2 separate regions of the Homo sapiens genome follow, and region 1 is linked to region 2. Evidence: fine-mapped expression QTL. A gene starts in region 2. The other region holds a variant in brackets. All regions are shown on one strand. Distances are between the middles of the regions. Region 1 overlaps ASCC3 (activating signal cointegrator 1 complex subunit 3). Region 2 holds the start of ASCC3 (activating signal cointegrator 1 complex subunit 3).

Evidence for each region. PIP is the estimated chance that this variant, and not a neighbour inherited with it, causes the effect.
Region 1: its variant is fine-mapped to the expression of ASCC3 in whole blood (TOPMed, PIP above 0.99).

Annotation. Positions count from the first base shown.
Region 1 is chr6:100,639,699-100,645,092 of GRCh38, forward strand. ASCC3 (activating signal cointegrator 1 complex subunit 3) reads right to left here. Exons shown (of 42, transcript NM_006828.4): 23 at 4,333-4,431; 24 at 2,883-3,051. Among named protein-coding and RNA genes, the nearest start is that of SIM1, 180 kb to the left of the region's middle. The variant G/A (reference allele first, on the strand shown) is at 3,192.
Region 2 is chr6:100,878,608-100,884,001 of GRCh38, forward strand. It overlaps ASCC3 (activating signal cointegrator 1 complex subunit 3), which reads right to left and starts at 2,722. Exons shown (of 42, transcript NM_006828.4): 1 at 2,454-2,722. LOC107984041 (a long non-coding RNA gene) reads left to right here and starts at 2,850. Exons shown (of 8, transcript XR_007059692.1): 1 at 2,850-3,047. RefSeq lists an enhancer at 2,566-2,685.

The DNA.
Region 1 (5,394 bases), 240 kb before region 2:
CAAAAAATTAATTTAAAAAATTATCCTTTCCCCACTGCTCTATTCAGTTAATTACATAGGTAACTGAGGGCTAACGACATACTTTCTACACCAGACTGTAGGTTTCTTAAATTTTCTGAAGCACTGAAAATTGAGGCCGGGAGCGGTGGCTCAAGCCTGTAATCCTAGCACTTTGGGAGGCCGAAGCGGATGGATCACCTGAGGTCAGGAGTTCGAGAACAGCCTGGCCAACATGGCAAAACCCCATCTCTACTAAAAATACAAAAATTAACTGGGCGTGGTGGTGGGCGCCTGTAATCCCAGCTACTCGGGAGGCTGAGGCAGGAGAATCGCTTGAACCCGGCGAGTGGTGGTTGCAGTGAGCCCAGATCATCCCACTTCACTTCAGCCTGGGTGAAAGAGTGAAACTCTGTCTCACAAATAAAATAAAATGAATAAAAAATAATAGAGAAGGAAGGAGGGGAGGCATTGCAAGTTAATGCTTGTAATGCTAATCAAAGCCGAGATATGTTCTTAAAAAGACTAAAAAATAAATAAATAAATAAACTGCATATTGCATATTTACTGATGATGTTAAATTACAGTGCTTTACATTAGTGAAAGATGAAGGTTTTTCTTGGCTCATTTGGGCTCAATGATAATGACTATATATTCAAAGAGACCCTGGAATCATTGAGGTTACTTTGTATATGTCTAATATCAACTGAGATGTTATGGTGGTACATTTATTGTTTTTAAAATTGTAGTCAGAACTCAGCTAATTATATAAATAGGGTGATACATTCTTGGTCATTTGGCAGACAAAAGATAAAATGAACATTGAAATAGAATGTTAACGCAAGTTAAGATCAAGTGCTATACTCAAAGATTAATGATGTTTGAAGCATGTATTTTAAATTAAAGCACCAAACATTTTTTATATATTTTATTCTGAGATTCTAAATATTACATGTAGCACACTTGATGAAAGAAGACTGGAAAGATTCCCTTCAATGAGTAGATCACTAGATACTACAATCTCATTATTTTTCTATGTTGACAAGCCTTTTAGTTCTGTTCTGCCAAGATATCAAAGTGGAATTAAGCCAAAGTATAAAGTATCTCTCTTTAAGATAAGCTAAGATAATGAATAGGGTACACATTTGACAAAAATGGCAAAGTTTAAAGTCACATTAAGACCTCTTTCAATTCCCAAAGGACTGCCAAATAATGAGTTCATTAAAAGTAGTGAGGACTATATTTTTATTCTGAAAATGACAAAGGGTTTCTCTTTGGAAGAACCATATGAGAAAAAATATGGACTTTCATTTTTCTATAAATTAAGGCCCTCTTAAAATCAATTCTGAAAAAGAAGAAATAAACTTATTATACTAGTTAATTAACAGATTAGTTTAGGATTTTTTGAAATAGAGTATTTCATAGGGCACTTAAAAGTATCATTGTAAACATTTATTCCTGAAAAATCTGCTTCTATATTAAGTCAAAATAAAAAGGTATTTGTTCACGTCACCAAAATTTAAAATGGATTTTTGCAAGGTATGACAGTGAAAAACACTATTGTATGATGTTGAAGATTACCACGTACCCCTTTATAATGTTAGGGCAGAGGGATAAAACTAATATAAAGTGTTCCTATTTCCCCACATCCTCTCCAGCACCTGTTGTTTCCTGACTTTTTAATGATCGCCATTCTAACTGGTGTGAGATGGTATCTCACTGTGGTTTTGATTGGCATTTCTCTGATGGCCAGTGATGATGCACATTTTTTCATGTGTCTGTTGGCTGCATAAATGTCTTCTTTTGAGAAGTGTCTGTTCATATCCTTTGCCCACTTGTTGATGGGGTTTTTTATTTTACACTGTTGGTGGGACTGTAAACTAGTTCAACCATTGTGGAAGTCAGTGTGGCGATTCCTCAGGGATCTAGAACTAGAAATACCATTTGACCCAGCCATCCCATTACTGGGTATATACACAAAGGATTATAAATCATGCTGCTATAAGGACACATGCACATGTATGTTTACTGCAGCACTATTCACAATAGCAAAGACTTGGAACCAACCCAAATGTCCAACGATGACAGACTGCATTAAGAAAATGTGGCACATATACACCATGGAATACTATGCAGCCATAGAAAGGATGAGTGCATGTCCTTTGTAGGAACATGGATGAAGCTGGAAACCATCATTCTCAGTAAACTATCGCAAGGACAAAAAACCAAACACCACGTGTTCTCACTCATAGGTGGGAATTCAACAATGAGAACACATGGACACAGGAAGGGAAACATCACACACCGCGGCCTGTTGCGGAGTGGGGGGAGGGGGGAGGGATAGCATTAGGTGATATACCTAATGTTAAATGACGAGTTAATAGGTGCAGCACGCCAACATGGCACATGTACACATATGTAACAAACCTGCACATTGTGCACATGTACCCTAAAAGTTAAAGTATTAAAAAAAAAAAAAACTAATATAAAGGGTAGATGTTATTTGCAGGACACAAACTCACTTGAGGTATGTGGAAATCCATTCCATAGTGATACCATAATATGATTCCTTAATATTAGCTTTTTTGTTTTTGGTGTAGAAACACAAAAGATGGGGGGAAATTCCCCATAACTCACTGGTATGTTAGTTAATTTAACATACTAGAAATAAGTTTAAGTAAACTGGAATAAACGCAAGGGAGAAAATAAAAGTTTTACAGAGAGAACAGATTAAATGATGAATGACAAATGAAATAAAAAGGGAGTTATAGAGAAGTTATAATGATTACAAGTAAAACTTTATTACGGTGTAGACATTTTTCAACATTAATTAAAACAACCATTTTGGAAAAATCAATGATTCAAATCAGCATTCACCATGTTACCTGTATGAGGAGGATGTCTCTCTGGTAGAATTAGATGTTGAAAGTTGATAATACATACTGCCTCAGCACCCAACCATCTATCAGACACTGCTCGGATGTAGTATTGGGAAGGCAAAGGCTCAAAAATAGGGATTGTAAATACCAGTAGTTGGGCTTCTTTACTAATGACCTAATATGAAATACAGTCAAAAATAAATATGGATATTCTAATAGCATAAAGGCCTTATTAGTCTATTGTTAAGATAACGGTATCTCTACAAGATATACTAAAGACAAAGTATCTTGAATTTGTAAATAGCTGAGATATTC[G/A]GAAACTTTAGAAAATTGTGCATGGTGCCCTTCTGAGGATACCTGATAGAAGGTAAAATTTTATGGCTAATTTATATTATTTACATATGCATATAATCATGTATTAACAAGTTACCAATTTGACTACCTGAATTTCCCAAACATCATTCATTCAATTACATAACTTCATGATTTTTACCTTACCGAATTACCATATTGTTTACTTAATATTTTTTGTTAAGTTCTATCAGTACCTAAAATGGAATACCGCAATCACTTGGTACAAATAGAAGGTAACCAAGCAGACAAAAGCAATGAATACAAAACGCTGCTATGAAATTCTACTGTTGCCTACCCAAGACTCTTACCTGAAGCTTGCTTTATCTTTGATAAAAACAGAAATTACGAATGAAGCATCAGTTAAAGAAATACCATCAAATTGAGTCTTTGTCTTGTGATTTATAAAGAAATTTAGAAGAAATGCTCTTTTAATCCAATAGTATTCAGTATTTTGTGCATGTGACCCTTAAGATTATTATTGATCCTACCTATTTTACATATTCTACACCTCTGGAACCCAGGTCTTAAACCATGGTAAAGATTATCCAGTCATGCATTGCTTAATGACAGGAATGGTTCTGAAAAATGTGTCATTACGTAATTTTGTCTTAAGAACATCATAGTGTACGTAGACAAGCCAGATGGTATAGCCTCCTAAATATCTAGGTTACATGGCAAAGCCTACTGCTCTTATACAGCATGTTACCATACAGCATGTTATTGTATTGAATATTTTAGGCAATTATAACACAATGGTACTTACCTATCTACACATATTTAAACCTAGAAAAAGTAGGTGAAAATACAGTATTATAATCTTATGGGACCACTATTGTACTGTTGTTGTGTATGTGGTCCCTTGTTCACTGAAATGTCACTATGTGGGGCATTACTGGTAAGTGAATTTCTTAAACCATGATCACATTGAATATACCAATACTATAACATTTAATCACTGTATTCTTTTAAAACTAATAGGAAACTAAAACATAAAATAAAGTTTTAATTGTACTATAAAATTACAGAGAAATAAAAGCAGAAACTGTTAGTATAATTTTTTTTACAATAGCAAATAAGGATATATTCACATATATACACTTACTTGTTTTTTTAGAGCTAGAAAATACTCTGAATGATAAATATGATCATTTGTAGGATCTTCTACCCAAATCCACCAAGGTTCTCCTACTGTCCCATGTACCTAGAAGAAAAATAGCATCCTGCTACTATGCATATCATAACTCAAATAAGGGATAGCATCCAATCTTCTCACTCTAGAAGCTTTATTGATATATCATTTATATTACAAAGTTTACTCATTTAAACATTTCAAGTATACAGTTAAATGATTTTAATATATTTCCAAAGTTGTACAACCATCACCATAATCTAATTTTAGAACATTTTCACCACCTCAAAAAGAAACCTTGTACCCATTAGTAGTCACTACCTTTTCCTTACAGATTTGCCTAATCTGTAAATTTCAATTAAATAAAATCATATAATATGCAGTCTTTTGTGACTGGAGTTTTTAATTTACCATGATGGTTTCACAGTTCATCTATGTTTTAGCATGCATCAATGCTTTCATTCCTTTTTATTGTCTAATAATATCCCATTGGATAGATATACTGTATTTTGCTTTATCCATTTCAATGTCTTTCTCTCTCTCTTACTCTCTCTGTCTCGCTCTTCCTTGCAGAACCCAGTCTTGTTCAGCAAGCATCTCTCCCTCATGTGACTCAAGAAAAAGTGACCACATCCCCTGGGATAATTTTGATTGGCATAAGTCAATCAGCTCATGGGATTCCCCTCCCAACTGCTGTGGTAAGGCAGAGGCACATGACAAATACTGGCCCAATTAGACTGAAGAAAAGGTCTATGGTCCATGTTCTGGGCTGGAGAAGTGGGGATGTGTTTCCCATGCTCTGTTTAATGCAAACAAAAAATCCTGAAAACATTTGAGAAGTACCCAAAAGTGTCAGCAGAGCAAATGGGTGAAAAGTTCCTGGTCTTTGAATGACATCTTTAAACAGAAGACTCAACCATCCTTAGGGCCTATTCTACCTGTGGACCTTTCATTATGAAAGATAATATACTTTCGTCCTTAACTCAGCTTGAGGCAAGTCAAGTTTTCCATTCTTGAAGCCAACAGCATTGTGCC
Region 2 (5,394 bases):
ACTCTTCCCACGAAAGTCCAGTGGAAAAGGGCCTAGCACAGATTATGTCTGAAAGACAAAATTCTCATTCCACCCTAATCCATGAGCCTCTGGGAGGCAGACTGAAGGAATTTACGCCTGCCCTCTTGTGAGAGTGGAAAAAACTCAAACCGTTTTTCCTCTGCTCTCACACGACAACCATCAACACAGAAGATGTCTGTGACAAAATGTGTATGAGTTTCTCCCCATGCACCAAGCAAACAATCACTTCTGCAGCAGACATCAGATGAGTGTTCTCCAATTCATTTCTGACACTATCTAGAGATACTGTCATATCCCACAGATTGAAGGCCCAATCCCACAAGACTGCCCACCACTTCTGATGCCAATTACAAGCTCCAGGCTTTTTTATCTGTACTTCTGACTGACCAGCTATAAATTGGGGATTACATGACCCCCCTCCTTGGGTTCGGTTAATTTGCTAGAGTGGTTCACAGAACTCAGGGAAACACGTTTACCAATTTATTATAAAGGATATTACAAAGGATACAGATGAACAGATACATAGGATAGGGTAATTTATAAGGGAAGGGAATTTCCATGCAGAACTTCCAAGTACTTCCTGGGCACACCACCTCAAGGAATCTCCACATGTTCAGCTTTCAGAAGCTTTATGAACCCTGTCATTTTGAGTTTTTATGGAGGCTTCACTACATAGGCATAATTGATTAAACCCTTTGGCCACTGGTGATCAACTTAATCTTCAGCCCCTCTCTCACCTCCCTAAGCAGTTAGGGGGTGGGGATGAAAGTCCCAACCTTCTAATAATTCCTTGACCTTTCTGGTAACCAGCCCCCATCCTGAAGCTACTAGGAGCAGCCAGCTAGCTAAGACAAAATTCTTAGTCAATTCATTAGCATACAAAAAGGCAAAATGGGGCCCGTAATCCCAGCACTTTGGGAGGCCGATGCAGGAGGACTGCTTGAGCCTAGGGGTTCCAGAGATACACAGGAGATCAATCAGACCAAAGTGAAGACTGGAAAGAAACTGATTTCTACCTCAAAAGAAAAAGCTTTTTATTTATTTATTTTTTTTGAGGTAGAAACTGAGGTAGAACTGTGAACTTTATATTTAAACAAGCTTTGAAAAAGAAAAACTTACTCTTCTGAAATGGCAAACCACTGGTACATATACTACTTTTTGATCAAAGGCAATATCAAATCATGCTGTTAAAGCAAGATCATCTGTTCCCCTTTCAATGCCAATTACATATATACATTGACAATAACTTTTTCTTTTAAAAGCTTTGTTTTGGTTAACTACAGATCCATGGCATGAGAAAGAACCCTAGTCAAGATTCTGTCTTAAAAGGAGGCTGCTGGATTATAGAAAGTTCATGAGCACAGAGACTGTCTCTCTCTTGCTCTCCTAGGCCTAGCCCAGCGTTTGACACATAGGAAGACTTGAATGAATGAATGACAAAAAACTGTTAAGCAGGGATCAAGAAAGCTGAACCATGAAAAATTAATTTCTCATATAAATAGGATTATTTAGCCTAAGCTTAAGAGCATCTTTAAGGATCATTTTTCTCATGCAAGACTATTATAACCATCATTAAAAAAAAGAGACAACATAAACTGGAGCACAATCCATAGTAAAACCAAAAGCTTAATTCTCAACATTTGAGAACTTTGAGAATCAGAAAAAGGATTTCAATCTATGAAACATAAAATCTGGTGATGGAGAAAATGGCTGTCAATCTCACCTAACCTAGGGAAAGAAAGAAAATGTAACCATGAGTTTGAATGCACAAGTGACAACACATCAAACTTTTACCAGCCCCTAGAATTATGCTTCTTTTAAACCAAAGAATAGCAAATACCATTAGCACACTGCATTCCATGAGTAAGTTAATTTATAAGAAACCTATTTGAAATGACTGCCCAGTACTCACAAAACCTCCCTAGCACCCACATACACATTTATTTATTTCAAAATGACATTATAGGCTCCTTGATTGCGAAATTCACCCACAATCCATCACGGTCAGCTACCTATTTACTTTCCAGTGTGTTGGGGGAAAAATATGAGGAAGATTTCTTTCCCCAAATCTACGTGAAGAAAACGAAGTTATCAAGGCTTTGTAACAGAAAAAAAGAAAACAAATTACCCATGCATGGGACAGAAAAACCTCATCTGGTCACGTTGTGGCTTAACACTTGGACAATATGTAGCTTAGGTTAAGTTTTCTATCCCCAACCCCACCTACAAACTCTAGGAATGGGCGGTATTGTTGCGAGACCCCGGACTCGACCTCATGCCACTGAAAAGGATGACAGGTCGGGACTTGCCCCGGAGGCAGGAAGAGAATCTCTGGCGGGTCGCGTAGCCCGCCTCGCCGTCCCCGCCTCCAGCCAGCTCCCCTGGCCGCGGCGACCCTTCTCGTCCTCCCACCTCCACCTCCACCTCCTCACCTCTCGGCCTGGCTCACGCGTTTCCCATCACTCTGTCAGCTCCTGCCACCGCGCCTTCTTCCCTTTCGGTTTTACTTTAACTTCCCACGCCGGGTGAGGAGCTGAGCGCAGGGCCAAAGATGCGAGCGGGCAGCTGTATCGCCGCGCCCCGTCCGCCCTCCAAGCCGCGCTTGCCGGGGTCGCGCCCAGTCACAGGGAACCGCGTGTGAGGACCATCAGTCAGACAGACAGACGCAAAGACGCACAGACCCGGCGAGGAGGGACAGAGTGGAGCTGGCGCCGGCCTACACGTCACCGCCCCGCTGCAGCGCCAACGTCGGCACGTCGACTCGTCGACTCCGGGCCCTCTGCCCCGCCCGCGTGCGCGCGCCGCTCCGCCTCCCGCCTCCAGCCTCTAGTCCGCTGGGTTCGGAGGAGCAGAGGCGGAAGGTCCCGGCGGCGGCGAGGATGCGCCCCAGGGCGGGAGCGGGACGCTCCACTTTACCCTGGCTGCCCGCAACGGGCCAGGCCTGCCGTCTCTACCTCTCTACCTGTGAGTTTTTTCCCTGCATTTACTTCAGTCTGCCGCGTCTTCTCCCCGCCCTTCTCTGTAAGGTAAATATGTGGAGGAAATAATTCCTATTAAAGGTAAAGGAAAGGAGAGCAATTTGAATGAAGAAACAGGTAGTTGCTATCGTCGTTTTCAGCCAAAGCCCTCTGGCTGCTAGAGAGTATACATGGTTCTCTGGTGTCAAGGCCTGTTTTCCATAAGCTTTCTGGATTCTCAGCTTAGTTCCCTCAAAGTGATCTCTGCAAGTCGGCTCTTCGGTCAGAAGACCTCCTCCAAAAACAGAAAGCCCAAAGATTCCCTAACTCGATTGAAAAGATAGGAAGATACGAAGAAAAACTAACCTAAAGAATTGTGTGGTTTATCTGCAAAGAGTTCTAGACTAAAAGCCAACAATGCAAAGATAGTATGAGTTAATATGTTTGTTGTGGCTCTCTTCTGCCATTCCCGCTTCCTCAAGGTAATGTGCCCCGATGCCTGGTAGAACTGTTTTGTAGAGGCAGCCAATAGTGATCCAGTTATTGTCTTTACTGGTCAGACCACCTCTGAAGTGCTGTGTTCAGCATTTGAAGACTTTAATCAAGCTGGCATTATATCAGGGAAGAGCAAAATGATGACGAGAACTCAAAAACAGGGCAAGTGAAGAAGGATTGATTAAACCTTCCAGGACTCACCTAGAAGAGAGAAAACTACTGGACTCTCTCCAAATATGAAATGACCTATCATGTGAAGTTGATTTGTTTCATGTGATGCAAACTTCAGGGAACAGATTTAAGATCCTGAAAAGAAGATGCCCTTGTAGCACGACCCAAAGAATTGCCTACCTTAGCATGTGTGAATACCTCAACCACAGAATTTTGCTTCAAGGAGATTCTGAAGCTCACTTAATAGGGACTTGGTACAGGGGAGCCACACATCAACAGAATAATTAGTTGATGGTTTTGTTAAAGATATTTCCAGTCTTGAGATTACATGTGTCTTTGGTCCTGGACTTCATAGAGTTTACAAGTTAGTTCATGAGACAAGACAAATGCATCACAAAAATAAATAATGCAAGGAGGCCAAGTGATAATGAGAGGTGCTGATAAGTGCTAGGAATTCACATGACAGATTATTCCCATCACAGTTCCAGAGGCTTAAGGGAGAAGAGAGGAACTGAAAATAGACTACCTAGAACTGCCCTATCCATTGGGGTAGCCACCAGTTAAATACGTCTCTTGACATTTGAAATGTGGCTTGTCCAAACTGAGACATGCAATGAGTCCAAAATGTACACCAGATTTCAAAGACTTAGAAAACAAATGTAAAATATTGTAATTCTTATGTCGATTACATGTTGAAATAATATATAATGGATCAAATAAAATATGTTAAAATTAATTTCAACTTTATTTTTACTTTTTATGTGACTTCTAGAAAATTTTTAATTACATAGGTGGCTTGCATCATATTTGTATTACATAGTCCTGGCCTGGAAGGAAATTCAGTTAGCCCTCTGTATCCATGGCTTCTGTATATGTGTCAACCAACTTTGGAACAAAAACAATTGAAAAAAAAAAAAAAAAAGAATGGTAATGTCTGCATTGAACACGCACAGACTCTTTTTTTCTTGTCATTATTTCCTTAACAATATGGATGTAACAACTGTTTACATAGCATTTCCCATTGTATTAGGTATTATAAGTAACCTAGAGATGGTTTAAGGTATATGGGACAATGTGCATAGTTTGTATGCAAATACTATACCATTGTGTGTAAGGACTTGAGCATCCTGGGGTTTTGGTATGTGGGAGTGTCCTGGAACCAATCCCCTGTGGACACTGAGGGATGGTCTTACTTCATTGAACTCTAAGAGCTATCTTTGTCCTCTTTATAGTCCCCAGGGTTTCCCCATTTTTTTTTTCAAGAGATGGGGTCTTGCTGTATTGCGCAAGCAGAAGTGCACTGGGTATTCACAAGCATGATCATTGTGCACAACAGCCGTGAACTCCTGGGCTCAATGATTCTTCTGCTTCATCCTCTCAAGTAGCTAGGACTACAGGTACCTGCCATCAAGCCCAGCTTCCCCAAATGTTAGTGGAAAGACAACCTAATGAAAATGGCCCTGATGACAAAGAGAAAGACCGTCCAGAAAGTATGCCATGAGCAAAGACAAGAAACAAGACTATAACTGCATTCTAGATAATGAAAACCTATTTATCTGTAATGGAACATTGTTAATAGAAGGTAGTGACAAAGTTAAAATGTAAACAAACTAGTCTATAAGGAGACTCAATTTTAAATTTAAAGAATTGAGTATAATAGGCAGTCAGTGTTTGGCAGTCACAAAATGGGATTGGGAGATTACTTTGGCAATATTGGGTAGGGTGGGTTGAAATTAGTGCATGGCTGGGA